Linked DNA regions of Homo sapiens: region 1 is linked to region 2. A link means that fine-mapping ties the variant in region 2 to the expression of a gene that starts in the linked region. Tissue or cell type: whole blood. Region 2 holds a variant in brackets; the other region holds the start of a gene. All regions are shown on one strand. Distances are between the middles of the regions.

What was found. PIP is the estimated chance that this variant, and not a neighbour inherited with it, causes the effect.
Region 1: it holds the start of GMPR, and the variant in region 2 is fine-mapped to the expression of GMPR in whole blood (TOPMed, PIP above 0.99).

What each region holds. Positions count from the first base shown.
Region 1 is chr6:16,236,973-16,239,636 of GRCh38, reverse strand. GMPR (guanosine monophosphate reductase) reads right to left here and starts at 1,050. Exons shown (of 9, transcript NM_006877.4): 1 at 857-1,050. The coding sequence starts at 943. RefSeq lists silencers at 948-1,047, 1,168-1,267.
Region 2 is chr6:16,294,200-16,296,699 of GRCh38, reverse strand. GMPR (guanosine monophosphate reductase) reads right to left here. Exons shown (of 9, transcript NM_006877.4): 9 at 1,151-1,694. The coding sequence ends at 1,514. Among named protein-coding and RNA genes, the nearest start is that of GMPR, 57 kb to the right of the region's middle. The variant A/G (reference allele first, on the strand shown) is at 1,376.

The DNA of each region.
Region 1 (2,664 bases), 57 kb after region 2:
CCCCAGCCTTCAACCGTGTCCGGTTTCCTCACCTTCCTCTCCAGCTCTCAGCAAAGCCAGTCACCAGCGCACACCACCCCGGGGCACTCTGCCTTTCAGGCAACTAGTTTATCCTTCAGGGACTGGCCTCCCTTCCCCCAGCCTCAGGCTATTTCCAGTCCGGTCTCCACCTGTTCCTTAGGATTTGAGGACATCCAGGCAGAACCAGGGAAATGCCCGAGGCTTCCAATTCGCCCCCACCTCTCTCACCCCAAAGCTTTCGAAACTCTTCTCCAGGGCTAGGCTGGGACCGCGGGCTGTCCAGTACCGCTGAGTCCCCAAGCCCCACTGCCAGCAAGGCCGCCAAACTCAGAAAGGAAACCCTGAACTTGTGCCCTGGGTTCTGGTTTTTCAGACGCGTTCACGAAGTTCCACCGCTGGACCCGAAGCGAAAGCAGCAGCAATTATCAGCACTAGGAGACGCAGCCAAAAATCACCGGGATCTGCAGTTGTTTTTCTCGTCCTCTCTCCCCTAGCTCCAGTTTCCTTTTCTTGCTATAAGCGCCCTCGTACCCCTATTCCTTCTAAACCAACTGGCCACTGGATCTCGCTCATCTGTGGTCGAGTTTCACTGTGAACTTCCCCTAGGCCACCCAACGGGACCGACGTGTAGAGAATTTCATGGGCCCCCGTATCACCGCCCTTAAAGACACCTCACGTCCTGGCAGGTGCTGGGGCGCGGGAACGGGGGCGCAGCGCCCCAGTCTCAAACACCAAAGCAGGCAGGGTAACCCGGTGCCACCCCCTTCCACCCACTTGCCCCGCGCCACCCGGAAAAAAAAATCCCACCCCACTGCGACTTCCGAACGTCCCCCACCTCGGCTCGGCTCTTGAGGCTGCTCCGCTTAGGTCGGAGCAGGACATCCTTGAAGTCGAGCTTGAGGTCCGCATCTATGCGGGGCATGGTGCAGCGGCTCCTGGCTGCGGCGGCGGCGACGGCGGGGCGGGGGCGCCTGCGCGGGGCGGCGCGGGGAGCGCCGGGGCTGCTGTGCCGCGGCCGGGAGCTGGCGTGGGCCGGGTGCGCACGCCGCGGTCTTAAACACGCCCCGCCGACCCGCGGTCACGCTTGGCCCGCCCCGGGCACCGCCTCCGCCTCAGGCAGGGGTTGAGAGGCAGACTGGTTAGGGACAGATTGGCGGCGAAGCCCTTCCTCCTCGCGCCGCCGCCCCCGTCCTTCCCCCTCAGGTGTACAGCCCGTGGCAGTGACCGAATGGGGACGGGGGAGGGAAATGCGCACCGTTCTGTTTGTCCCCAGGGTCCCCGATGGAGAGGGGACTTAGCGTGTGGCTGCCTTATCCAAGGGAAAAGTCGCTCCCTGAGAGCTTTTACTTTTTTTTTTTTTTTTTTGAGACAGTCTCACTGTCGCTCAGGCTGGAGTGAGTGGCGCTATCGCCGCTCATCGCAGCCTCGACTTCCTGGGCTCAAACGATTCTCATGCCTCAGCCTCCTCGAGTACAGGCGCACGCCGCCACACCCAGCTTATTTTAAAAATTATTTCCTAGAGGCGGGGTTTCACCATATTGCCCAAGCTGGTCTCGAGCCCCTGACCTCAAGTGATCCGCCTGCCTCGGCCTCCCAAAGTGCTGGGATTACAGGCGTGAGCCACCGTGCCCGGCGGATTCTCCTTTTTTAAAATTCAAGCCCGGTGTGCTCACCCAGTGTTGAGGAGCACGTCTCTCACTTGCCAAAGAACCAGAAACCCCAGGGAGGTTGTATAGAATTAAGGAAAAGAACGTGGGCAGTTAACTGTTTAGCTGTACTGGGATTGTGGAGGCCATGATTCCCTTTGGACTTGTTGTTAAGAGACAAGGTCTCACTGTGTTGCCCAGGCTGGTCTTGAACTACTGGGTTCAAGCAATCCTCCCGCCTCAGCTTCCCAGTGTTGGGACTACTGGCGTGAGCCACTGCGCCCAGCCTGGATTTCAGGATTTTTGTTTAAGAAAAACAGTGAGGTCTGTAGTCGACGCAGATCCTGAGATTTGAGGAGCCTGAGTCCCCTCTGAGGGTTACCAGTGATGTGAGTTCGAGGGGTTACCAGTGATGTGAGTTCATTGATTCACTTATTGACCTTACCGACCTTTTATTATACATTTGAAATGTGCTGCCGGGCTTCATGCATCATCTCATTCACTCTCAGAACAACCCAATGAAGAAAGAGCCATTTCACAGATAAGGAAAAACGAGGCTTCTATAAATGAAATAACTTGCCTAAGGCCGCAGAAAAATTCAATATAAATTTCTCAGTCCTTAAAACTTGCTACAACTATTCACTGAAGCTGCTTTTGTCCTGGAACATCTCTGCCTGAGTTTGAAACCTGGTTCCACCACTGTCTAGCTAGGTGACCTTAGGGGAGTCAATTTCTCTAAGTCTCAGTTTTCTCATAAAAGGGGTGGGGGCAGGAGGGGGGGTTAACCCTATCTCCTCCCTGGTTTTTGTGAGAATTAAAGTGTGTGTGTTTATGTAAGCACAATGTCTGTCCCATAGTAGTTGCTCAATGCATGGTAGTTACAGATTTGTAGTCACATGTTACATTATGTGCATTGTGTTTGTATTTTCAAACTAGAATGCTAACTGCACAAAGGCAAGAATCATCTTTCATTCTCTTCCATTTTTCTGCAGCCTCG
Region 2 (2,500 bases):
TCTCAAATTAAAAAAAAAAAAAAAAAAAAAAAAAAAAAACTCTTAATGGATTTAGTAGGGGAAAGTATTACAATGGAGACAATGCTGCTGGCTGGATCTCTAAACATAATCTTAAAGGACCAACAGTGGGCCTGTATTATCCCAGAGTGTGACAGCTCTGGTTGGACCCTTCTCATGCCATCGGTCACTGTGGACAATCAGGCCATTCATTCACCCTGGCACAGCAGCACCCTGTGGATCTTCTCTACTCCAGGGTCATTGCTTGCCTTTCCAAAGAAAACTGACTTGTGTATCTGCTCTTCAGCCTTATTAAAAAGCAAAGTAAAACAACCTGATCTGCATACGCTTTCCAGGCCTGGAACTCAATACTTCAAAGTTTAGCGGCCGGTCATCACTTCTTCTGCGTTCACTGTTTAAACAAGCATCCTGGTGGACTGCTGCAGGTCAGCTGCAGAGGCCAATTCTCCAAGACAATGTCATTGTTCCCAACCCGTTAACTGACCCTTATACAGTAGTGCCATGTGGTCCTTCCGAGAAAGGATTCACTGGCACACTGAGGGAATGGCTCTAACTCATGTCTCAAACCAATGCCTTTTAGGATGCCACTGATCAAAGCTTTGGCTCTTTTTCAGTGTGACTCCACCTGCTAATTTCTTGGGAGACAACCTTCCCATAAAACATCCTGTGGAATTTCAAATTAAGACAAGTTGGGACTGAGAAGGGGGAAAAAAAAGATGGAGGAAAACAAAACGAAATGAGAAGCCAGGACAGGGACAGCTTCCTAGAGGCAACAGCAAACTGGTAGCGACAGATGACTTGTCCCTGAAAAGCACATGTAATGAAACTCGGGGAAAACACATTGGCTCAACTTTGTGAGTATCAGCTGGGAAAACAATTCATGTTCATCTGTCCAGTTAATTGCTTTTGTTCTTTTGCAGCAACCAAAAGCTAGAGGTGAGGGATGCCAGTTACTTTGACTCCGGCCTGTCCACCCTTGGCCCCCGCACTGTCCTCCTCTCCTTGCCCCTCCTAAGGTGACTTGTCTGCTAATCGCCGGGAGAGGCTTGCCATCAGCCTGTCTAGGAAGGTAGCAAAACAAATCCCAAACCATTCAACTTGACTCCTGGAAATACAAACTCCAGCAACTCCATTAAGTCTTAAGATAATAGCATTATATTAAAGTGAAACCATCTTCTTTTAAAAAAGAAAGAAAAACAAAGAAAGGGAGAGAGAAAGAGAAAAAGAGAAAGGTGCAAGTGTTGGTTTGAACAATGAGGTTATGAGTTCTGGGCAGCAGGGCTCTGATGTTGGCCCAATCGGTGCCTTGCGTCTGGGCCCCGAGAAGGCAGGCGGGAGAGCCCCGAAGCCTCCAGGC[A/G]GCAGGAGACAGAAGAGAGGACACAGCATTCCACCATTCAGGAGCAGCCAGAAGCTCTGACGGAACAGACTTGGGGGGAGATGGGAAAAGCAGGTTTGGACGCTTCCACTCGAGCCAGACGCTGCTTTGTCCCCAGGGTTAGCTGAACACGGTGTTGTGCTGCTGGGTCACCCGGATGAATGTTGCCCTCCTGCTGAGCTCCTTGAGTTTGGCGGCCCCCACGTAGGTGCACGTGGACCTCAGTCCCCCGAGAATATCCAGGATAGTGTTTTCCACATCTCCTTTGTAAGGAACTTCCACAGTCTTACCCTCAGAGGCTCTGGAAGACGATAGAAGTTTTCTTTTTATCTAGTTTCCCGCCCCACCTTAAGAGCCCAATTAGAATTACTCCCAGCTCCAGCACTTTCTGTAGCCCCCAAGGCACTCAGAAAACCAGACCCCACCCTCTGACCCCATCCCCACATTTCTACCAAGTGCCAAGATGATCACCAGCATCTCAGATGAACACATTCCTCCCGCCCAAAGGGCACGGGCTCATTGCTGGCTGCCCTGCATGTTGCGGAGAGGAAAGTCCTGGTGAGCAGCGCTTGAAGGAGTCAGGGACCCATAACACCCTGCTTGGTGCCATTCTCTCCAGCAACGTGCTCCCCTCTGCTGCTAACAGAAACCACCTTTACCTTTCTATTCTACCTCAACATGCACACCAACTTCCCAACAACCAGGAGCCCAAAATGCCCCCAGAATGGCCCTGGCCGATTCCCCCCTGGAAACAGCCTCCTGTCCTCCTACGTCAACAACAGGAAAAGTCCAGAGCTTCACCTCCCGCCTGTCTGGTCTAAGATCAGAAATCAAGTGTCTTCAAGGGGGACGACCAGGACGAGGAGGACATAAAATGGATAGCGCAGGTCCTACCAGCTTACGTGGAAATCACCAGCAAGGTGATTTCATTGAAGTGGCTCTGTTTTGATAGCCTGCCTGTCTTTCTGCTTTGCTGGGTACACTGGCCACCCCCAGTTCGACTCCCTGTTCTCTTACAGGTCACTACACCTATCACCCTGCACATGTGTGGGTCCAAGCAAGGTGGAATCAGAGGAGAACCAAGACCTGTCTTAGCACCAGAGGCTT